3 separate regions of the Homo sapiens genome follow, and regions 1 and 3 are each linked to region 2. Evidence: fine-mapped expression QTL. A gene starts in region 2. Each other region holds a variant in brackets. All regions are shown on one strand. Distances are between the middles of the regions.

What was found.
Region 1: its variant is fine-mapped to the expression of RMEL3 in fibroblasts (GTEx, PIP above 0.99).
Region 3: its variant is fine-mapped to the expression of RMEL3 in lung (TOPMed, PIP 0.97).

Annotation. Positions count from the first base shown.
Region 1 is chr5:57,437,579-57,447,941 of GRCh38, reverse strand. The region is part of intron 1 of RMEL3 (enriched in melanoma 3); the gene reads right to left. Among named protein-coding and RNA genes, the nearest start is that of ACTBL2, 40 kb to the left of the region's middle. The variant A/C (reference allele first, on the strand shown) is at 5,640.
Region 2 is chr5:57,389,245-57,399,607 of GRCh38, reverse strand. RMEL3 (enriched in melanoma 3) reads right to left here and starts at 4,501. Exons shown (of 4, transcript NR_186596.1): 1 at 4,430-4,501.
Region 3 is chr5:57,492,349-57,502,711 of GRCh38, reverse strand. It overlaps RMEL3 (enriched in melanoma 3), which reads right to left. Exons shown (of 4, transcript NR_186596.1): 2 at 8,487-8,637; 3 at 5,795-5,932. Among named protein-coding and RNA genes, the nearest start is that of ACTBL2, 15 kb to the right of the region's middle. RefSeq lists enhancers at 7,761-7,820, 7,219-8,418. The variant A/T (reference allele first, on the strand shown) is at 5,943.

The DNA of each region.
Region 1 (10,363 bases), 48 kb before region 2:
TCCCATACACATAGTGGTTGAGAGGAACTTCAAAAGTTGATTTAATTCATAAAATGCAGCCTGTCTGAAATTCTTGAGGCTACCAACTCAACCTTGAAGAATCTAATGTTCAACCACTGTTGAACCAAACTGCCTGGTCAGTGAGTATTTCCACTGTCCTAAGAGTATTTGATTTTTAATACAGCAAAGCTGATAGAATCTGCTTCCATCAAAGCATTCTAAGTAGTGTTGATTGTTCATACTCCTAGAGCAGCCCAACAATGGAACTGATGTTTTTTTGTTTGTTTGTTTGTTTGTTTGTTTTGAGATGGAGTCTCGCTCTGTCGCCCAGGCTGGGGTGCAGTGGCGCAATCTCGGCTCACTGCAAGCTCCGCCTCCTGGGTTCACACCATTCTCCCGCCTCAGCCTCCGGAGTAGCTGAGATGACAGGCGCCCGCCACCACGCCCAGCTAATTTTTTGTATTTTTAATAGAGACGGGGTTTCACCGTGTTAGCCAGGATGGTCTCGATCTCCTGACCTCGTGATCTGCCTGCCTCGGCGTCCCAAAGTGCTGGCATTACAGGTGTAAGCCACTGCACCTGGCCTGATGTTTTAAAATATATATATATATACATATGTATATATCCTCTTTGAATACACCTGTTTCTGTCTTCATTCTCCCAGTCACTGATGCTTAGAATCTTGATGCCCTCATTAATGCCTGCTTATCCTTTTCACAAATACAATCAACTCAGCCTGGCAGGTCTTTCCTATGTGTCACTCTCATCACTTTCCAAAGAGCTGTCATTTCAGCAGTCACACCAAGTTCCGGTATCCCATCCTGGACTATGGGATACTCACCCACGTGATCTGACAGCTTTCCAGACTCTCCCCTTTCACCCACCTAACACTTCCCTCATAGATTTATTCAAAAAAAGAAAATCAGAGCCCTACTACTTGTCAAGCTGATCTCCTGACTAGTCCCACACAGGGAAGATGATATTAGTGCTCTCATTTTACAGATAAGGAAGCAAAGGCTCAAAGAAAGAGAATGAAATGAACAACTTGGATATTCTATCATATACCCTGCATTGTAATTGGAAAATCCTGTTCTGGTCTTCATGGACTATGGGTTGTACCCCAAAGATATGAGATAGATTTCTACACATGCCAGATACATTTCTGCCTAAGCTACTCTTCCTGCCAAGAATGTCTCCTCACTCCCTCCTTACTCCTTCCTCCAAGTCATATTTATGTGGCTAAAATGGAAAAAGCTTAGGACTTGAAGTTATAGACAAGCTGTATGGTCTTGGAAAAGCTACTTAGCTGTGCTGAGCATCAGTTTCCTTGGCTGTAAAATTGAAATTGTAAAAATAGTGATAATAATAATGATCACAGGTTGGTTGTGGAAATTTAATGAAGCCTTGTAAATTCCAATTATAATGCATGGCATGTGGTAGAATACTCAAGTTGTCCATCTTATTCGCTTTCATCGAGCCTCTGGTTTCTTATCCGTAAAATGAGAGTGCTGATAACATCTTCCCTGAAGGACTTTTGTGATGATGAAGTCCCTGAAGGACTTTTGGATACTGGTAACACTTTGGTGGTTTTTATCACCTTTTCCTCCCAGCTTGACTCACAGGAGCCAATGGGAAGTCTTCCCCCAAGAACCTTAGGGTACAGCGATACTCTATCACCTTGACATTGACTGTCTGGACTTCTCAAGAATGTAGCATAGAGTATGTTGAGATGTTTTGGTTGTTGTTACGCTGAGGTTTCTTTTGGCTTTCTCATCGATTCTTATCTTTCTCATGTGTCCACTCAAATTGACTGCAAGCCCCTGATGACAGGAACTACATCTCATGCAGCAGCTTCCTATCCCATAGAGCCTCGCACACAGGGAGTCAACAGTTACTTGCGGTGGCTGCTGCGGCCAGGGGTGGGACTGGCAAAGGGGGTGAGAACTCCATGGGTGCCAGCTCCAGCTAAGAGGGCTTCTAGCTGAGAGGCTCCATGACCCGGTTGAGGCTGCTTCTTCTCACCGATGACCTGGGAACCATGTGCCAGATATTGCTGAGAAATTGAATCATCAAGTAACATTGGCAGGAATAAGGGAAGGATCTGACTACTACCCTGCTCCCCTTCAGCACATTCCAATTGTGTACAGCAAACCATTTCTTCTTCCCTGGAGAAGGACAGTGCAGGAAGAGAGGTAGGCCTACACCGCAGAGCTGCTTCTTGTTCCTGAGGAACACATCTGTCTCCCTGGGGGCCTCTCGGGCCTCAAAGTTAAATGAGGCCTTTCACACAACCCCATTTGGAGTTCCTGTGAGCTAAAATAGTCACACACTCAGGGTGATAACTGTGCAGTTCCCAAAGAGCTGTCATTTCAGCAGTCACACGGAGTTGAACTACCTCCCTCATACTCTTTTTATGTCTGCTCAGTACGATTTTTTTCTCCCACTCAACAGGCTAGGATTTTCCTGTCTGAGAGCAGTGGCCTCTTTCTCAAACACCCTGTAATTTAAATTGAACAACACTCCCCAACCTCCCGTTTCTTCATAACTAGCTCTTCCCTGACATTGATGAGAACCAGTGAGGGTTAGAGCAGTAAACTCTCATGTCCATGGCTGTCTGTCTCTGCCCATCATTCATTTCCACTCCCTCCTTGCAGAGCCAAGCCTCACAGGGAAATCAGAGCTTCTGCATAGCAGAATTACTCCTAGAGCATAAACTCCAACATGTGTACACTGTAAGCCAATTAAGTCATTCTCAGCATTTTCTCCTGTCTCAAATAAATAAGGATTAGGGAAGTCCTGCCAAGCAGGGTTCCTGTATGGAGAAGTTTTATCTCCTAATGGGCCAGGACTACAAAGCATATAGCAGAAGCTCCAGAAGACAAGAAACCCAAGTCCTATTCTCATAAATAAGTGTAAAGGGGCAATCTCGGGCCAGGCTCAGTTGCCTCTTCCTCCTCATCTTTATCATCTAACCTCATCTGTTGAAAGCAGATAACAACATCTTTTTTGCTTGACAAAAGGGGGCAAACACAGGTGATCTCTCAAGATGCCCTCCAGTTCTGGGGTCTGAGATGCCATGGCATGGGGATGGTGGGAGGATGCATTGCAGAAGCTCTAGAGCAGTGGTTCTCAGCTGGAGGCTGCTGGTGGTGGGGATAGGGTGCCACCAGCATGTAGTGGGTAGAGGCCAGCGATGCTACTAAACATCCTGCAATGCCCAGGACAGCCCCCCTCAATAAAGAATTGTCCAGCCCAAAATGTCAATAGGGCTGAGTTTGAGAAGCTCTAGTCTAAATTAATCCAACAATAATTTGGGGGAAAAGATAAAACGAGTGAAGAAATCCCAACACTCCTGCACCCTGAAATGAGCTGAAATTATTTCTGAAGGAATATCAATCTGGAGGTAAAAAGAGGGACAAAGGCCAAGCGTGGTGGCTCACACCTGTAATCCCAACACTTTGGGAGGCCGAGGCAGACAGTCACTTGAGGTCAGGAGTTTGAGAACAGCCTAGCCAACATGGTGAAACCCCATCTCTACTAAAAATACAAAACTTAGCCGGGTGTGGTGGCATGCACCTGCAATCCCAGCAACTTGGGAGGCTGAGGCAGGAGAATTGCTTGAACCTGGGAGGCAGAAGTTGCAGTGAGCCAACATCATGCCACTGCACTCCAGCCTGGGTGACAGAGCGAGACTGTCTCAAAAAAACAAACAAACAAAAAAAAACAACAAAAAAAGAGGGATAAAAATCTTATAGCTCAAACCAAAGAAAGGCGTCATTTGTATACTTAAAAGTTAAGGGATTTCTGCTAAAAGGCCAATGGATCCAGGCTGAAAGAAAAGGCTGACTGCTGAATCACAACTCTCCTTCCCTAGGAAATGGTACAACCCTACTTCTTGTAAGCAAAGGAAAACCTGTCAGAATACCCTACCACCCCTAATGTGGAGGGCTGGGAGCCAGAGATAAGAGCAGGCTGAGGGGCAACCAGCACAATCCCATCCAGTGTTCATCTGGCACCAGCTGATGGACAGCTTCCCGAATTTAGCTGAATTACAAGGTCCAAGAGCAAACACAGCCACACTAAACCAAGAGCTTGCAGGTAGAAATCCTAAGAAGTCCCTGGATGAGGATCCTTCTCAGTGCAGTGGGACTCAACCTCTCTACTCTCCCTTCAATGGGATCTTCTTCCACACACACCAGCCCATTGCTCCAGGACAGAGGTGAGTCTCAGCCAGCCATGCCCCTCAGTGACCTCAGGTTTTGGACATCTGGCAACTGGTGTAGCAACAGAAATGAAGATTCTTCGCTGTGACTCCTGAGAATGCTGGGTTCTTCTCCAGGATCTCCTGGCCCACGAGACCTCTCAAAACATCATCTAAAAGTACAACCCCTGAACCTGACATTTGGGAGGAAGAATCTAACTGCCAACAGGTGGACACAAGAGGACTCAAACAAACACGTTTGTACTTTCTTTAGTTGTTACCACAGTGGGATATTTCTCTTCTTTCTCAAGAGTGAATACACAGAAAACAAAATTTAAAAATTAGGGACTGTGAAGGTGCCCTGCAGTGTGGAAGAAAGAGGTAAATAAAAAACAAAAGAAGTAGAAAACAGCCCATTTAAAAAAAAGATTCACTGTTGCAAAAAAAAAAACAAAAACAAAAACCTTAACATTTACTATCTTTCTTAACAAAATTAATACAAACCTTGATTAATAAAAGAAGAAAGGGTTAAACATAAGAACCATAAGAATAAGTCAAAAAAAAAGCCTGCAGCGTTCAGGAAATTATGTAATAAAAAATGCTATAGAAGAATTTAAATCAATCTTTTAAAGAACAGAATGAGAATGTGGAAAATTAAGTCATGTAGAGGATAAACACAAAAATTTCTCCCAGAAGCATAGGAAAATGACAAACAGAAAAAAAAATACACTGAAAGGAAAAATTATTTGTGTAGATAACAAAAGTGACCTAATGCATGGGTGATTAGTGCTTTTTTTTATAAGAGACCAGGACAAATGGATTCAGAGTAATATTGTAAGAATAATGTTAAAGAAGAAAGTCTCCAGAAACTGAATGAGGACTACCTTCACCAATGAAGTATGGTGGTAAGTGACATCCACGGCTAGGTCATAAGAACGTCATGTGCTTCTGCCTTGTTCTGTTGGGTTGTTGTCTTAGAACCTGGCCACCATGCTGTGAGAAAGCCAGGCAGTCATGTGGAGAAGCCACATGTGGGTGTTCTGGCTGAGCTCTAACTAATTTCCCAAGCAGCAGCCACACATGTGAATGAGTGAGCCTGCAGATGACTCCACCTTTAGGTGTCCTCAAATGACACTTTGTGGAGCAAGATGAGCTGCTCCTCCCAAGCCCTGGCCAAATTGTGAGTTCATGAGCAAACAGAATGGTTATTGTTATTTTAAGCCCCTGTGTTTGGGGGTTTTATTATACAACAATAGATAACTTGAACACCAACCAAAAAGCTTCTCAACTAAAAGGAAGTAAAACATGTTAAGCAGTGGCTCCGGCACAGTGATTTGCTATTGCTGCCTTGGAGCTGAGATATGAGTAATGTGGGGGTGGGGGCAGCAGAGGGTTCAGATTTATAGTCTTCCCCTGTAACATCATAGAAGAGGCAGCC[A/C]CTGAGCTGTTCTGGTGTTCTGGGCCCATCCCCAGAGCATTTTTCCAAAATGCCCACTGTGGTTTTCTAAGACATTCCCTGGCAATTGCCTAGGGGTTGAAATAATTTTTGGATAAGTTTTCTACACACACACACACGAACACACACACACACACACACACACACACACAGCACAGCAAAGTTATTTATGAGACCAACAGGTCATCTTTTAATGTTTATAACTCAACTTGGAGGGTTCTTTTCCAATGGATTCAGGAGCCACTTAGGTGAGATAAACAAGGAGAGTTGCCCTGCAATATTTTTGAACCAACATGAGCTGCAGCAAATTACAATTCTCAAAGGTGTTGTGGGAGGAGAAAGTCAACGCCTAGTGCTTGGGGACCTAAATTATCTTGTGGCTGATGCCCTATTCTTTGCAGTTCTCAAAGTCCTGCTTCAGTTGTTTCCTGTGAACAGTTGACACCCACTTTCCTGGGGCCACCTCTACCCTTAGAACCTGAGGCAGCCTCCTGGGAGCTGATAAGAAACACTTCTAGGCAGCTCCATCACCCACCCCATTGGGGCTGACTCATCCATAACTTACTCCTCAGGGAAATTGAGAACATCTGTTTAAGGCACACAACACTGGCCACGTGACAGACTGGATGGAATGGGGGGTGAGGTGGATAAAAGGAAACCACTGAACCTTTTAAAAACAAAAACAAAGGGCTTAATATGCAATGACCAAGTATAGTAAATGTATTCCTGCTCACGGAGCAGCTGAGCTGAGCCCACTGAAAACACAGGTGTCCCCTTTATCTCAGACAATAAGCTTCAAAGGAACTTAAAAATGAGGTAGAAGAAACACAAGGACCAGCCCAGTGTGGCTTCTCCTACAAAGCAGGCCAGGATAGAAGAAACCATCGCAAGCCTTTCTGAATGCACACCCAGGATCATCCCTCCATCTGTCCCTGCTTCCCTTCCAGCAAACCCCAGGACAATGCCCTCTCCCTGTCACTACCACTCCCCACATTTGCCCTCACCTGCCCAACTGGGGCAGGCTTCCTCACCTTGCCTCCTTGACTGACAGTAAGGACAAACACAGAATCCCATTTTAATTTAAGAATTTTATAACAAATTCTGTGAGGAAACTGACAAAGGACCTCAAAAATAGGCAACATAGGGAAGTGACAGATGTCCAGAAGTCTTACAGAGTTCACCTTGGGGTGAGTCGGCACCTCAGGCAGGGCAGAGCAGGAAGAGGTTGGCCAGGTCCTTGCTGTGGGCTCACAGAGGAACAAGCACAAAGAAGAAGACCTTCCTCTCACCATCCTCCCTTCCCTCCTTGGTCATGCTGAGCTTTCAGAATGCTTCTTTTAGGCCGAGCGCAGTGGCTCACGCCTGTAATCCCAGCACTTTGGGAGGCCGAGGCAGGCAGATCACCTGAGGTCAGGAGTTCAAGACCAGTCTGACCACCATGGAGAAACCTCATCTCTACTAAAAATACAAAATTAGCCGGGTGTGATGGCACATGCCTGTAATCCCAGCTACTTGGGAGACTGAAGCAGGAGAATCGCTTGAACCCAGTATGCAGAGGTTGTGGTGAGCCAAGATCGGGCCATTGCACTCCAGCCTGGGCAACAAGAGTGAAACTCCATCCCCCAAAAAAAAACAGAATCCTTCTTCTGATGTCCTCATTGTGGTCTTCATCCTCATGAAACACACTACCTTTTCAAAAAAAAAAAAACCTATGTAAAAAGTTATATTTTTAGAGAATGTTCCCCCGGGAAACAATTGCTCCCCTAATCCCTCCCCACCATGAAATGAAAATATGCATATCAGGTTGGCATACTGTGAAAATCCCGAGGACTTAAAGTCTGTAAGTTCCAGACCTCACCAGGCTTGAGAATTTCTCTGCCCTTTTTAAATTTTATTTCCTTCCCTTACAGCCTTCCCTTATGTGTGTTTTTTTTTCTTTCTTGGCTCCAGTCTAGAAAATTATATTTTTCTTCCTAAGATATCAACATGTCTTTTCGAGCCTCCATTCTATACTTAACTTTTAGTCCTTCACGCCCCAGTATTCTTCACCCAGAATCCTATCAGCCACCTGCTCCCATTTCCTATATAACAAAGATGGTATTCCCACCACCAGGGATTCCTGGGCTCCCAGCCCATCAGGGGTGCCATTACAGGGAGCCCCCACTCATAACCATGTGATCACAGGAAGGTCTCAGGATTAGCTAAGGACTCTGAATTAGCTAAGAATACTCATGCCCCATAACACTGATGTAAATCTGAAACCTCAGAAATATGGTAAAATCTTTCAAGATTAGCTATGGTTTTAGAGATTTTGTGTCCAATGAGTGGATTTGTCTGCCTGATGTAGAAAAAGGAACGGTAATAGCTAACACTTAATAGCTCTCTATATACCAGGCACTGTTCTAAGCATTTTAGATACACTGACTCATTTCAGGATGATACCAACTCTATGAGGTGTTGCTATCTCGATTTTATAGAGGAGGAAATTGGGGCTCAAAGAGGTCAAGCAATTTGCACATAAATCTCTCAGCAGTAACTGGTAGCACCAGGATTCAAATTTGGGTAGTTTGGCTCCAGAGTTTGGCCTCCTAACCATCATGCCACACTGGCTGCAAGACCTAGGGTAAAAGGGTCTTGGGAAAACTCAACAGATTACCCTTTATGGTAGAAAGAGCAATGATAATAAAGTTAAAAATCAGTGGTAACCCAGAATAGCTGAGTGATGTGGAGCAAAATACTTAACCCTCTTCACTTCAGGTTTTTTATTTATAAAATAGGGAAAACTAAACTAACTCACAGGATAAACGTGAGGATTAAATAAGAGCAAATAAGTATAAGAGAAAGGCATATTAGTTAGGAATTGTATTCCATTGCTTAATAACAGATGCTAGAAATGAGAGATGTTTCAACAAGATAAAAATTTCTTCAGCTCACACATATTTTTAAAATGTCCAGAGGTAGGCAGTCCTAGGCAGCTATAGCTCTACAGTGTCATTAGGGATCCAGATACCTATCTTTCTCTACAATTCTGATTAATAGCGCATGGCTGCACCCTCAAAGTTGCCTTATGATCCAAAATGGCTGCAGCAACTCCAACCATTATGTCTGCTTTCCAGGAGAAATAGGGAGAAGGAGTTAAGGAATAGAAAAAGTCTGGATTAGCTGATGTCCTCCCCTTTACAGCACTTTCCCAGAACCTTACCCAACAACTGTATACATTTTATTAATTAGAACTACATCACATGACCACTTCTAGCAGCAAAGGAAGCTGGGACATATGGCCTCATTACTGAGCATACAGCCATCAGAATGAAATCAGGGTCTGTACTAAATGAAAAGGGGATATGGATATTGGTTAGGCAACAAGCAGTCTCTGGCCATAGAAGGAAACTAAATTTCATTGAGCATCAACTCCCCGCCAGACACTTCACATAGATTTTCTCATTTGACCCTTGTAGCAATCAAGAAAGATTTAAATGTTGTTACTACATTTATACAGAAAGAAATGGGATCGAAGAGAATAAGCAACACCATTCTTCATACAGGGAAACAGATTTAAAACAGATCTAACTTCAAAACTTGAACTCTATCCATAACATCATTCAGCCTCCAAAGTTTCCTCTAAGGAAAAGTATTTTGTAAAAGTTCAAGCATCATGTGCCACGTATACCTTTAAGACTTCTGTTGTATTAATACTTGAAATTATGTCTCAGTTACTTCCCTGGAGAAAGCAACGAACTCGCTTCAATTATTTTGTAAAAATAGAAATAAAACTGCGTATCATTTCAGTTGGTAGAAGAGGAACAGTCACTGAACATATATATATCCTGGTTACTGATGTGTCCACGTTTTGAAAGCATTTCCTGGCCTTCCTCTCCAACAGTCAGGATAAACAGTCAGTAAAGGTCATTCTGCAGAAGGCCGACTGTCACCCTGAGTAATATCTATCCCTCGTGTTTCAACCCCTTTTCCTGCAGCCACAGATTGTTTATATTAAAAAGAGAAGATGATCTTTATGTTTTCTCTCTTCTTGACTCATTTTGAAAGGAGGTATGGCAGAGAACATAGAGGAATTGCATCCAAATCCTATAGCTACATTTGCATCCTGGGTCCATTCCAGAAATCTGAGTGTTAAGAGAGTGAGGAGGTGCAAAGCAAGGAAGGAAACAGAAATGCTTGAACCCCCATAAACAGGCTCTTCAGCATTGTGTTTATTCTCCTTCCTCCAGTTCATTTTCCTGCCCTAAGGAGAAGACAATCCTGATTTGCAAAAACTAGGAATAAATTGTTGTCTTTGCACTTTTTTTCTACAATGTGACCCTCGGTGCATATAGACACACACCTGGATTATAACAGGCCTTGCTTTGCAGGGCCCTTTGAATGGCAGATACAGAGGCTGAGCATTCAGGCACCCAACATATTATGACTTCTACGGCCTTTTCAAGTGACCCAGAATACTTGCTCCCCCCAGCCCCCACCAGCAACATTTCTTTTGGAAGACCAAGTCATTTATGCCACTTCCAAGATACCACAAATTACCTATGAGTATTCTTTCCTGAGAGCTGGTTTTGATTTGATAGAAAAGAGAAAATGGAAACAGCACAATGGGGACAACACAAGGGTGGGAAAAGACAGCCTGGTGGCTTCAAGATGAACTTTCTTACCTTACAAGTTTTTCTAATGGATTAATGTAGCAAAAAAAAATT
Region 2 (10,363 bases):
GAATATGTACAATTATTATATGTCCATTAAAAAAATAAAAGAAAGGAACTTTAGTTGTATGAGTAGATTCATGGAACTTGTATTCATTTATTCTTTTACTTCCATAATATGGTAGAATCTCAGATGTAAGAGGAAAAGGAGCAAGACGGTTAACTGCCAAAAAGACCTGTAAGTGGAAGTAAGAGAAAAGATTTGGGAGTCAGTTCCATGTCAAATGATGCACTCCAGTTTCTTCTGCTTCATCTGATTTGGATCACAAAGCTGACAAAGGGCAGGCCTGAGGTGGAGAAGCTAGCTCATCTGTGCCCTGGTCATAAATCCTTTGTGTTCTTAGAGGTTTCATCACCATCCATGTTTGGCAGCATTTCTCTCATCAGAAAAAAAATGAAATGTCAACGGAGGATATAGATGGATGCGTATTTTTTTTAAAAATGTCATCGTAGTAGAGGTTATGTCCTAGATTTTCTACTACTATAAGTTCTCGGAAAACTTGACATTTCTGTGAATTAACACCAAAAAAGCACGTTCTCTTCAGCATCAATTTCCCAGAAAATGCACCTGATTAGGGCTCAGGGTGGAACTTCAGAAACGGAGTTGGAAATTCGTGCCTTCAAACACGCTTGCTAATTTAGGTCTTCTCCCACAGTCACAAGACGGCTGGGGTGACAAGACCCATCCCTCAGAGGATTCCATGTAACCTTCACTCTGAGGCCTGGAGGTCTCTGTCTCACATCACCAACTGCTTTTTAATTTCCTCCACATTATAAACTAAATGCCAAGTCGTGACAATACATTTCCTAATGGGAAAATAGAGACTTCACAGGCGCTAGAAAAGAACGAAGGACATGAGCTGTCTTTAAAAAGAGCAAATTGACTAATGGCTTAATAAATAGGCTTTCTCTACTGAGTGAAGCAAAAATAAGTTGAATGACAATGCCACGTTAAAAAGAGATTATAATGGAACTAACCCTCGACCCATAACTATAGCAGGTTAGATCAGGAGATGGCTGTCATGAGCAGGAGTCTGCAGGAATTAATGACTCTTAAATGACTTCTGGCTTGGCATTTTCATAGTATGCTCAAAACCATCTGCATTGTAAACCAGGACTTGTGTCCCTGAGCAAGACATTCAATCTCTCTGAGCCTCCATTCCTTACTTGTAAAATAAAATGGACTTCTGTGCACAAAAGAACAATTTGAGGAGCCGGGCACAATGGCTCACACCTGTAATCCCAGCACTTTGGGAGGCTGAGGCAGGCAGATCATTTGAGCCCAGGAGCTCGAGACCAGCATAGGCAACAAAGCGAGACCCTTTTTCTACAAAAAAATCAACAAGTTAGCAAGGAGTGGTGGCATGCGCCTGCGGTCTGAGCTACACAGGAGGCTGAGATAGGAGAACCGCTTGAGCCCAGGAGGTCGAGGTTGCAGTGAGCCATAATCGCATAACTGCACTCCAGCCTGGGTGATGGAGTGAGACCTTGTTTCAAATAATAATAATAATAATAACTTCGGGAGTTTGTTTAAAATGTAAGCTATCAGGTCTCATTCCCAGAGATTTTGATCAGTAGGTCTTGAGCAGGAATCTTATTTTCTAGATATACTTTCCAAATTTCATTCCACAACATAAGATGTGCATGAGGTTTTGTTTGTTTTTTTAAAACTTTTTCATTTTTATGGGTACATCGTAGGTCTATGTATTTATGGGGTCCATGGAGAGGTTTTGTTTTTAATTTTTAAAATTCTACCTCTATAATTCTTCCTTAATTTTTAAATATTATGGAATGTAGTATAAACATTTTCTGTTGACAAAGTATGCAAAAGTTAGCTGTAGATTTGGGCAACATACATAAAAAGAGAAAAAATACAAATGCCTTTTAACTTAATATGGAAGTAGTCCCTGCTTATCTGCAGGGGAAACACCTCAAGACCCCCAGTGGATTCCTGAAACCACAGGCAGTACTAAACCTTATATAGACTATGTTTCTTCATATATATACATACCCATGATAAAGTCTAATTTATAAATTAGACACAGTAAGAAATAACTAATAATAAAATAAAACAATTATAACAATATACTATAATAAAAGTTATGTGAATGTCATCTCTCTTTCTCTCTCTCTTTCTCTCTCTCAAAATATCTTATGTGCTATACTCACCTACTGTCAGACTGCAGTTGACTGAGGACAATTAACACTTCAAAATGAAAACCTCCAATAAGGGGAGACTATTATAATTTTAAGTCAAATATTCCAAGAAAATAATCCCAAGAGCACACAGAAGTTTTGTACAAAGATGCTCATGAGCAAGTCATTTTAGTGGTTAAAATAAAATAAAATAAAACTCTGAACTTCTGAAACTTGACCTCTGATCAAACTGCCAGGCTAGACCTTCCCCAACGCAAACTCCAAATGAAGCACATCTGCCTCATTATGTGGTATTGTAGGTAGAAAACTATTGAAAAAAATAAATAAATAAGCACCCTCAAAGTGACAAAAACAGAGCAACGGTTAAGTAAGTGATGGTACATTCATAAAATACAATATTATAAAGTAGTTAAAATTGTCAGTATGGATACATTGCAATAGTATATTATTCATATATAAGTTCCATTAAAGCTAAGTTACATGAAAAAAATAGTGCAAACATTATATACACACACACATACACATTGCCACACCCACACATCCTCCCTACCCACTATAAACCTACAGAACAGCACGGGAGAACAAAGCCACAGGCTGCCCACAGAGTGATCCTTTCTTTTCTTTTTTGCCATACTTGATCTGAAACAAATAAAGTTATTTTTCCAAAGAAGTGGTGCAGTGAAAGGGTCCACCCACCTGTTTTAATAGGTTTCTAATTATTTAAGTGTGATAAGGCCAAGAAACGACATCACTGAAAAGATAGAGGTCACACAAGAAACCAGGACCCCCTCAGGAGGCAGAGGGAGGGGGATCTGTGGATGAACGCCTTTTTTGTGGCTTACAGGGAAGGAATTTGCGAGGCAGGGTCAAAAGGCATAGGATGGACTAATTGGAATAATTTCAGTGGGCTCTGGGGCACAGGGGCTGTCCCTGCTTGTGTGATACTGGTCCTGGGGTGATCGGTGTGGGTGGACAGTAGCCAGCGGAGGTAGTCGAAGCGTGGGCCAGTCGCCTGTCTAGGCAGGGAAACTGGCCTCTAGACAGGGCCTCAAAACTGGGTCAAGACAGCATTTAGAAAACAATATTATAACACCTGAAAGAGGTTGCAAAATAAAAGTCATTACTTGAAATTCTCTAACACTATGGGTTGGGGAGGGGCGCACCCAGAGACTACAGCTGTGATACTATTTTATATATATGTTTTCATCCAAGGTTTCTGGCTCGTAACTCCCATAGCGCTTGTGACAGTGTTTTGTTGTAATGTTGGAGCACTTTAGATCCCAGAAGCAGGCCTGAGAAAATACAATCTCTCTCTGACCGTCTCCTGCCCTCCTTTCACCTGCTCCCTTTTTTTCCCAAGGCAGGCCTTAGGAACTAAAAATATACTCTAATTGTTCCCTACCTTTCTGTCTTGCACTGGCCAAAAAGAAATTCCCTGACCTACCTTGTCTGATTGCAGGTCATAAGACCCCATTTCAGAAGAGGTCCTGCCCCATTCCCAGGAGGAAGGAATGCTGCACAGAGAGGCCAAAAAGAATCTGAACAGACAGGCCTTGCTGGGTTTAGAGCATACTCTTCTTATCCAATCACATTTTGACACAGTTGTCTCTGCTTCAATTATGGACAATCAATGCAGCCTCCAAAAGAGGCCCAAAGGACAGGGTTCGAGGGCTTCCGGGGCGCTGAACACATGGAGGCTGGCAGGAAGGCGAAGAACTCACCCACCTGCTAGAGCAGGGGCACGTATCCCAACTCCACAAGGACAGCAGCTCCTGCACTCAGGACCATTCCAGACCTCACCCTATGCATGTTTTCATGTGGCTATTTATTTGCATCCTTTCAGATATCCGTCATAATAAACTGGTAAGCATAAGTGTTTCCCTGACTTCTGTAAGTCACTCCAGCAAATTAATTAAACTCAAAGAGGAGGTCATGGAAACCCCAACTTGAAGCCAGTCAGTCAGAAGTTCAGAAGGCCTGGACTTACGACTGGTAAGAAGGAAAGAGTGGTCTTGTGGGACTGAGCCCTCAACCTGTGGGATCTGATGGTATCTCCCAGTAGACAGTGTCAGATTTGAATTGGAGGACGCCCAGCTGGTGCCTGCTGCAGAAGCGATTGCTTGCTTGGTGTATAAGGGAACCCCCACCACCACATTTGGTCACAGAAGTCTTCTGTGTTAATTGTTGGGGTGTGAGAGAAAAGGAAAAACAGAGTTTACTCACACTCAACAGCAATACTTAAAATCTTTCCATTTATTTTCTTACCCACTTCTCTCACCTACCGGATCGGCTGTTCTCAAAATAACCTGAGAAACATCTCCAAACCTCTGGTTAGTTTCTTCTCCCCAGTTGCTTCCTTCATTTGTCCCCAGAAAGGCTGAGAACAAGTCTGGGAGAGTAAGATCCTCCTGACGGGGGCAAATGAGGGAAGAGACTGACCCTTGAAAGCTAAATAAACTCTGCCAATTGTACCAATGCCAATGTCTGGGTTTTGATAATGTTCTATAGTCACGCAAAATGTTACCATTAGAGGAAACTGGGTGAAGGATACACAGGACTTCCCCATATATTTTTGGTAATTTTCTGTGAAACTATAATTATTTCAAAATAAAAATGTAAAACTGAGACATAATAATAATAAATGAAATTTAAAGATAAAAGTTTTTTAAAATCTTAACCTATCCCAGACCTTTTTTTTTTTTTTTCATCAACTCAGCCGTTTAAGGAAGATAAGTAACAAAAAGTGTATTCAATACTCCAGGGGTCTTTCAGAAGGTGTTGAAGTCATTCTCCTGGAAGATATGAAAACTGAATGTGTTCTCTTGTGTGTGGGGTATGACTGAGGTATTATGATCCTGGCTAGGCAGACAGGAGGACTAATTCATCCCTCAGGGTGTCCTTTCTCCATACAATGTTCCTCTCAAGGGAAACTAAACAAATCTTTACTGAGAACAGAAGGAACTTGGAGGGTTATTGCCAGTCTAAAGGGGCTTTCCTTTCCCCACCTCAATCCATCCATATACATGCTGAGTACTTAACAAATTGAGAAATAAGATTAAAAAATACACTGGGGCAATTAAAATGTAAACTTATCACTGCTAAGGCCGATATTGGAAGATGTTGCTTATATTGCAATCCTGGGGCCTCGTAATACTGATCCTCTGCAGGCCTCCCCACATAGACTGCATGCTCTCTGGGGTGAGTTCACACCCAAGAGAAAAAAAGAAGGGAAAAGGCTGATATACAAGTGTCCAGTTTATCCTTCCCAGGTCAACAAGCAGATTTAAGTCATTCTTCCTCCCCTGAGTGAGTGAGTGAGTGGCCAGGTGTGTTACAGTGGAATGCCAATCACATGACAGCAATCAGAGTGAAGGAAACTCCCCCATCACTACTGTATCCATTTCCTAGGGCTGCCATAACAAATTACCACAAACTGGGTGGCTTAAAGAACAGGAAGTTACTCTCTTACAGGTCTAGAAACTGGAAGTCCAAAATCAAGGTATCAGCAGAGCCATGCTCCCTCCGGAAATTCTAGGGTAGGATTCTTTCTTGCCTTTTCCTAGCTTCTGGAGACTCCTGGCAATCATTGGTGTTCCTTGGCTTGTAGCTGCATCACTCCAGTCTCTGCCTCCACTATCACACGGACTTCTTCCTTCTGTGTGTGTCTGTGTGATCACTTGGCCTTCTTATAAGGGCACCAGTCATTGGATTAGGGCGCACCTTAATCCAGTACAAATTCATCTTAACCAATTACATCTGCAAAGATCTTATTTCCAAATATGGCCACATACTGTGATTCTCAGTGGCCATGAATTCTAAGGAAACACTATTCAAGCAGTCACCGGCCACCAGAAAGAACAAGTAGGTTTATTATCCTTTAGAAACATGTTTTTTTCTAAAGGGTATAGCAAACAAAAGTCTACCGTCATAAATCTTTTCTCTCTTGAAGCATCTTTATATGGGAACTCTGATTTAAAAGAACATGACCAAGGTATTTACACTATCCATGAAGCAGTATTGTGTTCTTTGAAAGTGGGCTTGGATTCATTGTAAATGTATATTTCAAACTCTACGGCAAATACTGAAAAAAGTATAAAGATAAAAGAAAAGAAGCAGAATAACCAAAATGCTCAGAAATGGGGAAACATGAAATCATATAAGATGCTCAAGTAAAACCACAAAAGGCAGGAAAAGAGTGAAAGACAAAACTAGGAACAAAGAAAAGGACAACAAATAGAAAACAGAAACAAATATGGGAGATTTTAACCCAACTAGATCTATAATCACTTTAAATATCAATAGTCTAAATTCACCAATTAAAAGACAGAGATTGTCAATATGGATCAAAAAAGAAGATCAACCCATATGTTATTTATAAGAAATTCCTTTAAATGTAAATATGCATATAGATTAAAAGTAAAGGGATACATTGATGTTCTTGTACAGAATGACTATTGTAAAAAAAAAGAACAAGAAAAAGTAAAGGGATAGAGAAAGATACATCATGCTAACACTAATCAAAAGGAAGTGGAAGTAGCTACAGTAATTACAGACAGAGGAGAGCAAGGAAGTCATCAGGGCTAAAAAGGAGCATTACCTAATAATAAATAGCTCAATTCTCCAAGAAGACATAACAGTCCCTAATGTGTATGTGCCTAACAACAAGCACCAAACTATGTATGGCAATAACTTGCAGAATTGTAAGGAAAAATAGATGAACCCAGTATTATAGACTTTTGCACTCCTCTATCAGAAATGGACAGATCCAGCAGGCAGAAAATTAGTTAGTGAGGACATAGTCAAATTCAACAACATCATGAATCAACTAGAATAATGGGCATCTATAAACTAATTTATCCAACAACAGCAGAATACACATTCTTCTTAAGCTCACATGGAACATTCATCAAGATAGATAACATTATGGGCCGTAAAACACAACATAACAAATTTAAAAGAAGAGAAATCAGACAACATTTGCTCTCAGACCACAATGAAATTGAACTAGAAATAAGTAACAAAGTGATAACAGGAAAATCCTAAAACCCATGGAGATTAAACAACATACTTCTAAACAAACATAGGTCAGAGAAAAAATCCCCCAAAAAATTGTTTAATATTTTGAAGTAAATACAAATAAAAACACAGTTTATCAAAATTTGTGGAATACAGCAAAAGCTGTGATTAGAGGGAAATTTATAGCATTGAAGGTATACATTAGAAAGGAAATCTTTCTGATTTAAATTAACAACCTAAGCTTCCACCTTAAGAAACTAGAAAAAGTAGAGCAAGTTAAATCCAAAGTAAGCAGGAAAAAAGAAATAATGAAAATGAGGGCATATTAAAAACAAAAAATTAATAAAGAAAAATAAATGAAACCAAAAGCTGATTTTTTGAAAAGATAAATAAAATTGATAACCCTCTAGCAAATTCAAATTCAAAAGAGGATACAAATTATTAACATTAGAAGTGAAAGAGGCAACATTACTACAGACATTATGGATATTAAGAGGATAATAAAGGAATTCTATGAACAACACCCTGCTCACAAATTTGATAATCTTGATTAAATGAACCAATTCCTTGAAAGACACAATCTGCCAAAACTCGTACAAGAAGAAAGGGACAGTCTGAAAAGATCATCCTATTAAAGAAGTTGAATTAATAATGACTTTCCAAAACAGGAAGCAACAGGCCTACATGGGGTCACTGGTGAATGCTACCAAATATTTAAGGAAAAATTATACCAATTCTCTACAATCTCTTTAAGAAGATAGAAGCAGAGGAAGTACTTCTAAGAAGGTATAAGCAGAGGAAATACTTCTTAACTCATTCTGTCAAGCCAGTATCACCCTAATGCCAAAATCAAAGACATTACGAGAAGAGAAAACTGAAAACCAACATTTCCCATAAGCACAGATGCAAAATTCTCCACAAAATATTAGCAACTTGAATCCCACAATATGCAAAGAGGATTATACACCAGAACTGAGTGGGATTTATCCTAAGTATGCAAGGATAGCACAAAAATCAATCAATAGCACAAAAATGAACCAAGTGGGATTTATCCTAAATATGCAAGGATACCACAAAAATCAATCAATGTTATCAATCACATCAGCAGGCTAAATAATAAAAAACAAATGCTCATATAAAAAAATAAAGAAAAGCACTTTGGGAGGCCAAGGTGGAGGATCACTTGAGGCCAGGAGTTTGAAACCAGCCTGAGTAACATGGCAAGACCCTATCTCCATAAAAAAATTTTTTTTAAATAGAAAACAAGTAAAAATAAATAAATGGAGAAAAAGCATTCGACCAAAACCAATACTCTCTCATGATAAAAGCTCTCAGCAGCCAGGCGTGGTAGCTCACGCCTGTAATCTCAGCACTTTGGGAGGCTGAGGCGGGCGGATCACAAGGTCAGGAGTTCGGGTGAGACCAGCGTGACCAACATGGTGAAACCCCATCTCTACTAAAAATACAAAAATTAGGCAGGCATGGTGGTGAATGCCTGTAATCCCAGCTACTCAGGAGGCTGAGACAGGAGAATCGCTTGAACCCAGGAGGCAGAGTTTGTAGTGAGCCGAGATCGTGCCACTGCACTCCAGCCTGGGCAGCAGAGCGAGGCTCCATCAAAAATAAAAAATAAAAAATAAATTAAAAAAAGCTCTCAGCAAACTAGGATAGAGGGGAACTTCCTCAATTTGATTTAAAAAAAAAAATAGCTACAGAAAATCTACTACTAACATCATACTTAATGTTGAGATACTGGAAGCTTTCCCACTAAGATTAAAAAACAAGGCAAGGATGTCCCCTCTCATCACTCCTTTTCAACATTGTACTGGAAGTCCTGGCTAATCCAATCAGACAGAAAAAGGAATAAAAGGTATACTGATTGAGAGGGAAGAAATAAAATTATTTTTGTTCACAGAAGACATGACTGTCTATGTAGAAAATTTGAAGAAGCAACAAAAAAACTCTTGGAACTAATTACTGATTACAGCAAGATTTCAGGATACAAGGTTAAAATACAAAAGTAAATCACTTTCATATATACCAGCAATGAACAAGTGGAATTTGAATTTAAAACACAATACTATTTACATTAGCATCCCCAAAAATGAAATACTTGGGTATAAATCCAACAAAATGTGTATAAGATCTATATGAAGAAAACTAGAAAATGCTGATGAAAGAAAGAAAAGAGCTAACTAAATGGAGAGCTATCCCATGTTCATGGAAAGGAAGATTCAATGTTGTCAAGATGTCAGTTCTCCCAACTTGATCTATGGATCAATGCAATCTCAATCAAAATACCAACAAGTTATTTTGTATATATTAAAAAACTGATTCTAAAGTTTATATGGAGAGGTAAAAGACAAAGAATAGCCAACACAAGATTGAAGAAGAAAAACAAAGTTAGAGGATGAATATTGCCTGACTTCAAGACTTACTATAAGGCTGCAGTAATCAAGACAGTGTGGTATTGGTGAAATAATAGACAAATAGATCAATGGAATATAAAAGAAAGCCCAGAAACAGCCCCACATAAATATAGTCAACTAATATTTGACAAAAGAACAAAGGCAATACAATAGAGAAAAAGTCTTTTCAACAAATGGTGCTGGAACAACTGGACATCTAAACATGTAAAAAAAATATAGAGATAAACCTTACACTTGTCACAAAAATTAACTGAAAGTTAATCACAAAAGTAAAATGTACCTAAATGTAAAATGTAAAACTCTAGAAGATAACATAAGAGAAATTCTAGATTATGTGGGTTCAATAATGACTTTTTAGATACAACACCAAAGGCACAATTCATGAAAAAAAAGGTATCAATAAGCAGGACTTTATTAAAATTAAAATTTTTTGCTCTGTAAAAGACACTGTCAAGAGAATGAAAAGACAAGCCACTGACTGGGAGAAATATTTGAAAAAGATATATCTGATAAAGGACTCATATCCAACATATACAAATAACTCTTGAAACTCAATAACAAGAAAACAAACCACTTGATTAAAAAATGGGCCCAAGATCTTAACAGACATCTCACTAGAGAAGATATACAGATGGAAAATAAGCATATGAAAGATGGTCCACACCATATATCATCAGGGAAATGCAAATTAAAACAAGATGTCACTACATGCCAATTTAGAATGGCCAAAACCCAGAACATTGACATCATCAAATGCTGGTGAGGATGTGA
Region 3 (10,363 bases), 100 kb before region 2:
TAGTTTTTCCCTTAGAATAAGCAACTTACTTCCTTCTGTTTGCCATGCCCCAAAAAGGGGGACTTTTTCTTGAAATTCTGCTCAAGACCTAATTTTGTACTCTAATGGCATAATATATGGCCCACTCTCTCTCTCAATGTATAGTCATGTACAGTTGCACAGTTTGTACACTGCACAAAGGCACATGACTGAGAGCTAGGGACTCTTGAAGTCATGTGGCCTGGTGCAGAGTTGTTTCTGCCCAGAGGACCCCCTTTTTCAATTTTGCACAAAGACTCAGTGGGGGCTAGGAGTAGCTCTGACAGCAATGAATGATTTGCATCTATTCAAGTATTTGTTGACTGAATGATTAATCTATTGACTCTAACCCTGCCAAAATCGATGGACAAATGCTATGTTTTAAATATTTAACAGGGCATTCTGCATTTACCCTGCACACTGACATTTTCTCCCTAAAAATGTTCATTTAAAAAAGGAAACTCCATCAAGTGTAGCAAGAAAAAGCTTGTACTCTTGCCCAGCCAACTTCATCCACTGACGACAGCACAGAAAAACATAAAAGCCCCTTGTTTCGCTGTCTTTGTTTCCCATGTTCTGAGGAAAATTGCACTGGAATTATGAACAGTTAGCAAATGGTATATAAACGACCAAAAGCCAAATGACAGCTCTATGAACAGACCCAGGCTGGCCCTGGCAAAGCCAGGCTGCTTGGGTTCTGGAACAAGAATTAAGGAATCAAGTTCCATTCCTGGCACTGTCCCCAGTTTGCTGTTAACCTTTTTTGCTGTCACCTCCTTTGCATCCACAGGGCTTTGTGACATGCACTGCAGTGCAAATGAGACACTATTTGATAAGATCTGAAAACCTCGGACAGAGGCCACAAAGCCAAGTCAATGCAGGGAGAGTTCCTCAGATGTGTCTCTCCCTGGGGCCCAGCTCTCTAAGGGATCTCTCGCTCTCTCTCTCTGGGGCTGTTGAGCTGCTTGATGAGATGTCAGCCTTTAACTCGACGGGAATCATGAGAGAAAAAAACAGATTGTAGAAAATATCTCATTTCCCAATGAGACAGAGATTCTTGACATAGCTTGACCCAGCAGTGTAGAAAAATTCAAGAGAAATGCATCAGTATCTTTAAAGAACAGACACATCCTGTACATCTGAGCTGGGCTTTCAATACTGTCCCTCCTCCAGGCTCACTCAATATTAAACCCTTTCATACCATGTGGCTCCTCCTGAGATTCCATCATAACTGTTTAGGCTCAGATGAGGACAACTCAAACCACTCTATTTGGACCTCATTTTCTGCCCTCTGTCCTTCCTCGCCAGAAAAAGCATTTGCTCTATTTTGTAGATCATATCTGTTCTAAAGGTGGGAACATGGTCCCTTCATAGCTGATGGAGTTCTCTGGATATATCTCCAAGACTGACTTGGTTGGTTTCCAGAAATTCCCTCCTTTCTCTAACACTTCCCAAAGAAGGAAGGATCCGTGAACTCACCTAACAAATTTGTTCAGATCTGCATCTGGTCTCACATCTGTTTCCTTCTCCACCCACTTCACTGGAATGCTCTCCGAGTGTGGGGAGTGTTTGGAACAAATCAGAAGAAAGTTCCTATTTAATAGAAGGTGGAGTGTTGGTTATTACACCTGGGTCCCATCGCCATCTCGGGTGCATCTAATTCCTCAGGAGTCCTGTTCTGACAGCATCCTCCAGGCCTGGTGCTCCCTTCTCAGAATTTACAATGGAAGATTGGGTGGAGGAGGGACTGGCTTTGGTTTTGTTTGTTTTTTGCAGAGAACCGAATCTCTCTCTTTGCTTTCAAATTGGCTTCACCTTCCTCACCAAGGAGAGGCCATTGGGCTGAGCACCTGTGATGATACTGCCCTGGCTCCTCCTCAGCTTACACCATAACTACTGCACCCCAGATTTAAGGCTCACAAGTTGGACCGAGTGATCTCCACAATCCTTCTATAATTCTTTGAGCCTTTTTCATAGACTAAAACAATTTTCAAGTATAACCCCCTTTTGCTTTTCTCCTTCCCATCATTCATATTCAGCCAGGCTAGTTAAAATCAAAAGGAATAAAAAGTAACAAAAGTATATATGTGTGGCTATTATTAATAGGAAGCTATAATTTGAAAACCTCAATCTTCTCATTTGGAGGTAAGATGTGCAACGTCTTTACATGTATCTTTGTCTTTTCAGCCTCATTTCTTTCTCCTCCAGAAAAAGTATCCCCCAAGCAAACAAATAAAAAAATAGAATATATTTAAATTATAAGTAGAGAGGCCGAGGTGAGCAGATCACTTGAGGTCAGGAGTTCGAGATCAGCCTGGTGAACATGGTGAAACCCTGTCTCTACTAAAAATACAAAAATTAGCTGGGCATGGTGGCAGGCACCTGTAATCCCAGCTGCTTGGGAGGCTGAGGCAGGAAAATTGCTTAAACCCAGGAGGCAGAGGTTGTAGTGAGCCAAGTTCGCACCACTACACTCCAGCCTGAGTGACAGAGCAGGACTCCATCTCAAAAAAAAAGAAAAAGAAAAGAAAAAGTGTAAGTAGATATGCTTTAATTTAACCATCCCTACAAAATTAAATGATAGTAATACAGGAGCTAATCTTTGGAGATAAGTAAAACAACCTAATTCAGTGGTTCTCAGCCAGGGCTGATTTTGCCCCCCGGGAAATATTTGGCAATATCTGGAGACATTTTTGGTTGTCATGACTGAGGTGGGGAGGGAAGAAGTACCACTGGAATCTAGTGGGTGGGTAAAAGCCAAGGATGCTGCTAAACATCTTTCAATGCACAGCTCCCTACCACAAAGAATTATGCAGCCCAAAACGTCAATCATGTCAATGCGAGAAACCCTGGTCTAGAGATACCAACAGACCTAGATATACAAAACCATTATTTTTCCATACAACAGAGAAAGTCATGTATTCTCATTAATAAATAGTAGACTCACTAAGCCAAGCAGTCACATAAATAGCACAGTAAAGGTACTATGTAAATTTGAAAGCCAAGACTAAACAGGCAGGACTTGCAGCTTTTCCATAGGTGTTTTTTTTGTTTGTTTGTTTGTTTTTACCAGTTAGGCTCTAAAGAATGTTGCTGCCATCTAGGGGATAGAAAGAGAATCCCAAAAGCACCGTGTTCCTAGCTCCAAGGGCACGAGGTCCAAGCCCTGCAGGCACACTACGCACTCATTTCCCACGTTCCTACACTGAAAAGAAAAAAAAATACTTTGAGTTTTGTGACAAGCAATTGTTTAAAATTAAAAATACATCTATGTGACTCAGAGTCTACAGTGCCTTCAGTTAATTTGTTTTCTCCATTTCACGTGTGTGGTATGAAACTGAAAGTCCAGGTTTCTGATAAAGATAACAGATGTTTGCTGCCTGCTTTTATTTTCATATTTAGTTAGGGTAGAAAGAGGAGGGTCAATCAGTGGCCTCAGAACTCTCTGATAGGACCTCTCTTTCCACACACGCTTTTCTTTGGGTCATAGCAAGACAACAATAAGCTCTAGGGAAATTATAAATCAATAGAACTCCTTGCCTTCTTAAAAAAAAATAGGAAACTTTAATAATTAAATCAACTCTAATTAAAGGAAAATCAAGAAGAACCAGGGTTCAGAAGACAGAGGTGTTCCACCAGCCAAACATGCTGTTATTCCTACACACACACACACACACAGAGAACCCATGCGGATAACAGAGCCAAAAGGACTTCTCTAAGAGCTTTGAGAAGAGCATAGAGAGGGATTTTGCACTTCCGTCCTGTAGTTTTTGGAGAAGCTGGCTCTTGGGCTGCAGGAGTATAGTGTACCAGAGTTATAGGCCCCCTTTCCATTCTTAGCGGTGGTCTTTCTCAAGCTTCTTCATGGCTGCATGGGCTGAACTTTGGTTATTTTTCATGCACCAGAGGTAGAAAGCTTCCAATTCCTTTAACACAAGGGTTCCAAAACATCTTAAAATGATGCAAAAACTTATTTTGATCTTCACAACATGCCTTTGAAATAGGTGTGAATTCTATTTCTGTGTTTTAGGCAAAGAAACTGTTGTTTAAAAAGACTAGGACATTTTATTCTGACTGGCCCATCAAGTCCTGCAGATCCCAGTCCAGTTCATCATTCAGTTTGCAGCTGCATAAAATCGGATGGCTCTTCCTCCTCACTGTTTTAATGGAGCATCCTTTCCCACTTCCCACCTCTACCCTTGCTGGGGTCCTGCAAATACTACTATCCAGACCTTATTTTATTCCAAGGGAAAATGTTGAGGGAACTACCATCAGAGCAAGAGAAGAGAAACCTGTGTTATCACTAAGACATGATTCCACAATTGGCCAAAAAGAAGAATTATCTGATAATCCATGTGACCTCTTTTATAGCCGTCAGACTACAAGTCAATGGATGGAGGATGGATGGATGGATGGATGGATGGATGGGTGGATGGAGAGAAATAGGCAAGGCATGAAATTTCCATTAGCATTCCAGCATTTCTATGAATTTCCTATAGCCCAATTCTCCTAAACAAAGAATCTCATGCAATATTACCTGAGAAAGCACTATCCTGAAGAAATGCAAGGTGTTATTTAAGATAGACACTGTTAGTAACATTTACATTATATTAAATATTAATGTTTTGGGGATACAAAAAATTGTCTATTTACCTACTTCATGGAGTTATTGTCAGAATTGAGTGAGATACAGCAAGAGAAAGCTCTTAAAAGTTCATAAGCAGCACTCTGCATATATAACATGTCACTGTTATTGTCAAATACAGTAAGATAAATTGTCACAAAGTCATTTTCCCAAAGGTGATGTCATGTCTCCATAGACATGGATGCTTATTTCTTCAAGGATCACATATTCTGAGCACCCACCCAATAAAAGCAAACATGACTTGATAGGTAGACAGGATAATTTAAAATTGGCACTACCCTCCACCCAATTTCAGAATATTGTATCTAGTCCAATTCATTAAATTATTTTACCTTATAGAAGGAAAGGACCTATAAAAGATATGTACCATAAGCTCCTCTTTATCAATTTATTTCTTGCTTATGTTTTATATAATTTAGAGGAAATGTTCGTGATATGGATGTGTGAGAAAGATACAAAATTTAACATACATAAAGGTCTCAACTATGTACGTAAAAACAAGAATAGTGATTATCTCTGGATGGTAAGATTACCAAAATATTTTTTCTGCTTTAATGAGAGTCTAATTTTTGTTTTTGTTTTTGTTTTTTTTGAGACGGAGTCTGGCTCTGCCACCCAGGCTGGAGTGCAGTGGCACGATCTCTGCTCACTGCAAGCTCCGCCTCCCGGGTTCACGCCATTCTCCTGCTTCAGCTTCCCAAGTAGCTGAGACTACAGGCTCCCGCCACCACGCCTGGCTAATTTTTTTTTTTTTTTTTTTTTTTGTATTCTTAGTAGAGACGGGGTTTCACTGTGTTAGCCAGGATGGTCTTGATCTCCTGACCTCGTGATCCGCCCGCCTCGGCCTCCAAAAGTGCTGGGATTACAGGCATGAACCACTGCACCCGGCCAATAAAAGTCTATTTTCTTCATCCAATATTAATGAATATTCATTCCCAGACTTCTAGGAATAAATATTTTTTTCAACGCATTCAAGCAATCAGGTATTCTATAAGCCTTCATCCTTCCCTTTGAAACATTTTTCTGGAGCCTCTGTGCCCCACTTCTGGGATTTGCTGCTCTCCAAGCTAGTTTCACAGCTATGGCATCTGCATCTCCCTCCCCGTCGCCCTGGAGATTTCTTTGGCATACCTTCTGGGTTGAGGTTTTTATTTTCAGGGTCTCATGTTTTCTTCTTTCTTGATATTTCCTCTGGTTTTCTTGGAGCACATGGGCTGATATTAACTAAGAAGAGGTTGATGGGAGATAAATCGTTGAGTCTTCATGTGTCTGAAAAGGC[A/T]TTTATTATTCCCTCATATTAATTGTGAGATTGGCTGGGTATAAAACTCTAGTCTGGATATCATTTTCCCTCTGAATTTCCCATTTTGCTATTGACAAGACTAATGATACTTGGGTTCTCATTTTTATGGTTGTGATTATTGGGAGTTTTTTTCCAGTTAAAGCTTTTAGGACCTTCTCTCTCTGCCAGCGTTCTAAACTCTCGCAATGATGTAAGGTGTGATGTGTGTCCTTTCACCTATTTGTGAGTTAACCAGTTCGAGCTATAGGTTTGCCTCTCAGTTCTGGGCAATTTTCTTAATTCATTTATTTTGTAATATCCTTCCCTCTGCTTTTTTTTTTCCTTTCTGTAACTTCTAGTAGTTGGATATTGTACCTGTTGGATTCATCCTCGAATTTTTTTTTAAAAAAATCCTTTTTGTGTGTGTCTGTCATTTTGGTATACTTTCTGGGATATTTCCTCAACTTTATCTTCCAACAATTCTATTAAAATTTTCATTTGTGCAATATTCTTTTTAAGCTCTAAGAGCTCTTTTTGTTCTCTGAATATTTCTTTTTTATAACATTCTCTTCTTATTTTATGTATGCAATATCATCTTTTATACTCAGAGGATATTATTTATAGTTTTGCCTTTGTTAGCTTTTTCTTTGTTTCTATTCCTTACATTGTCCCTACCTCCTTTCTGTTCCTTTTGTTCCCATTGTTTCTGTTGATTGTGTCTTTCAAATTAGAAGCTTTTGTCAAATAGCTGATGTCCCTGGCTGTCCCTTAACCTTTAAAAGCAAGGCAATAAAAAGCTGACTGGAAGCTCTGTGCCTTAAGGAGACAGGCTGCTCTGTAGGATGATTTGGCTGGGCTTTTGATTGAGGGATCCCTAAAGTTGATATCTGTATGCCTTTCCAATTAGGCTCATCCACCCTCTTGCCTAAGGGATAAAAGCCTGGCTGCCAGCATGTTCTTGAAGGCAGGTTGGGAAAGGAGGCTGAGGACCTCTCTATGCACTATGTAGACTTTTACATAATTCCTCTGTGGAGTCTATTTTACAACAGATGTGGTTTTATAATACAAATTAGCTCCTACGCAGTTGGTAAATAGAAAAATTATGTCAGTATAATGCAGAATTAATTTATATGCAATACTTCCTCTGCTCAAGAAAACAGGATGTGGAGCAGAAGTATAACCTTCGGTAGGAAAGGAAAAAGTTTTTAATGGTTGCTGCTCTGGCAATAGAAACCGTTTGCCTGTGGTTTGAAAATTAAAAACAAGTACTTAAACCTGGGCTTCACCCTCGAAGCGGCTACACCCCACACCTGTGGGACTCTTGACTCCTGGCAGGTGGTATTGTCTCTGTGGCACCTTCAGGGCAGCCACACTGACTGAGAAGGCCACTTCTACTGCATTGTCGGAGTTCCTACCAGCTCTGCTCTTGTGTATGTGTTACTAACATTCTCTCTCAATTATTCCTCTGACTTCACAACAATTGTAACAGGCCCCAGCCACACGCAGCCTGCCTCAATAGTACAAGTTAATTTCCTGAGTATCAATTATTGTCTTTACTAGTGCTTTGCATAAGTTGTGAATTTTCTACCTCAATCTTTTTTTGCACATGGCCTTACTTTTTGTGTGCAAGTTTGAAAACTGAATTTTTCAGGAATCTCATCCTTATTGTGCCTTAAGCTTGTTTCCAAAACTGGCCACAACTCTTTCTTTCCCTGTAGCCACGTTCCTTTGCAATGTGACTTTGCAGCCCTGTCCATCAAGAGGTAGACCCTATCCCTCCCCAGCTCTTGAATCTGAGCTACACTTGTGACTTGCTTTGCCCAACTGAATGCATAGAAGAGACACTGTGTCAGTTCCAAGCCTAGGCCTCAAAAGTCTTTGCATGCCTCGACTAGCCCTCTTGGAACCCTGCCCAGCCACAATGTAAGAGCCTGGGCTTTGCCTACAGGAGGAGAGCAGACCACATTCACCAGAAGTGAGTCAGCCCGGCTTTCCCAGCTAAAGCTTCAGAGATAAGGGGCAGGGTTGGGGAGGAGTTCTCTGATGAATTTGCTTTTTTATCCGTATCTTCAGCCTATTTCCCTGTTTCTGACCCTAATTTGTCCCCACTTTTGGAAGTTCCTAGGTTTCCATTACTGAGTCTTTCTGGGACTCTAGTAAGACCACTTTTGCTTCTGGGCCTCCCCCACTCCCATGGAGGCTCTGTTTCCTCAGGGCTGAGTTACCACTGGTTCACCTCTCTCTTGCTTTAAAAATGTTATTGCTGTTATTGTTATTGTCCTGCTCTCTTTATCATTGTTTTTAATGTCTTTTTATTTCCTTACTGCAAAGTTTAGTGGTGTTTGGAGAGAACATGTAGATAAACCCAAGTGTTTAATCTGCCAAACTTAACAAGAAGTCTCCTCACTTCATTTTACAGATGAGGAAACAGAAGTCTATGAAGCTAAGTGGCTTGCCCAAAGCCACCTGAGTAATTAGTAAAAAATCTGAAACCACCTAGAATTCTGGAACCACTCCAATGTTCTTTTCTCTATTCCATGCTACCTTTGCAATTATGTCAGGAAGCCCATCTGATGGAACGAAATCCTCCCCTCATTGAATGTCTGTAGATTTCTTCTGTGCACATAAGATTCTGCAGTGCCATCGTCTGTTCCAGCCTTGACAAATACAGTGAGAAGCCAATTCAATCAGCATTCTAAAATATACAATAAAAGCATATTACTTTTCCCTGCTGATGTTTAAACCATCATCCACATAGAATTGCAAATTTTTGTATGCTCGCAGATTATGTGTAAACTCTCAGGCACAAATTAGAAACTATTCCATCAGTGTTTAAAATTCTAACTACATAAACAAATGCCTGTGCTCTAAACTGAAACAAATTGCAAGGTATACAACGTAGCCTTGTTGGACAGGGCAATGACTTTCAAGCCAGTAAGAAATGGCCAGAACAGGTGCTTCAGAATATGCTAATAACCTTTCCTGACATCCAATGGCCCACAGATATCTAGTTACAGGTATCTAGTTTCTGCCTATAAGCATCACTGATTATGCAGAAGAGCCTGCTTCAGATGTCAGGGTCACTTATGCGAAGCCTTCATATCATCTCCCAGCCCATTCCGGGGATGTGCTCAGCATCTCCACACAACTCCAGTGGGCATCAAGTCAGTGTGGAGCATCATAGGAGCACACAGAACATCCCATACCTCCAAACCCCAGGAGTAAAAAAGCACTACATCTAGATAGGTAAGAGACATCTCCTGTCTTGTCTCTTCACATCTAGACACTGCCTAAATCAATGAATCCCAAAAAACAATTTAGCTTCCATAGAGAATGTTGCCACACCTGACACAATAGAATGAGCCTCTGCCTGGTTTACAGAACTCAAACCACTCAAGTCAAACACTAGATATTTGCTTCAGTGTCTTTCACCAATTGTCTACCTCACTTTAGCCATCCCAAGCTTCCTTTTCTTGTGCTAACAATAGATTCCTACCCAATACATGGGGTTGGCTCAGTACCCATTAGGATACCTGCCAGGAATGTTGTGCTACCATTCTTGACCCTGCTTCACAGTGAATAGGCTCCACTGACCAGAGCTGAGCAAGCATCCTGGAGAGTCACAGAAAATGCAACGAGTGTTGCTAATATTTTGTCCAATTTTTGCTCTTACCATGCAAACTGCTAAACACTTTAGAGGCATCATCTCATGTCAATTCCAAGACAACTTTATGAGGTAAATACAATTATTATCTTCCATTTACGGAGGAAGAAACAGACTTGGGAAGCTCTGAAACACCCCACTTTACAAACCTAGGAAGTGTGGGAACAAATCTAGCTTTGCCAGATTCTAGAGTTGTATTCTTAATCACTATGTTTCCATAGTTACTGCAGGACCAGCACAAGGCAGAGAATTTTAGTTTTTATGTGGCAGCAAATTTGGAGCCCAGGAGATTTTAATATTCATGACTTAAGAGTTTTATGACCGTGGTCTCTAGAAAGGTTTGGGGTTGGAAGAGTTATTCACCAAAGTACTCCGGAAATTAGCTAACTATGAAGGGACTAGTGCCTGAACTAAAGCAAAGCAAATAGGGGCAGAAAGCAGCAAAGGTTATAAGAAATATCCCAAAGAATATTCAGTAGAATGTGATGTCATACTATACTTTGTTTTTCAAAAGTGAATTAAATGAGGCCGCGCACGGTGGCTCATGCCTACAATCTCAGCAGTTGGGGAGGCTGAGGTGGGCAGATTACTTGAGGCCAGGAGTTCGAGACCAGGCTGGCCAACATGGCGAAATCCCGTCTCTACTAAAAATACAAAAAATTAGCCAGGCATGGTGGCACACACCTGTAATCCTAGCTACTCAGGAGGCTGAGGCACAAGAATTGGTTGAGCCTGGGAAGCAGAGGTTGCCGTAAGC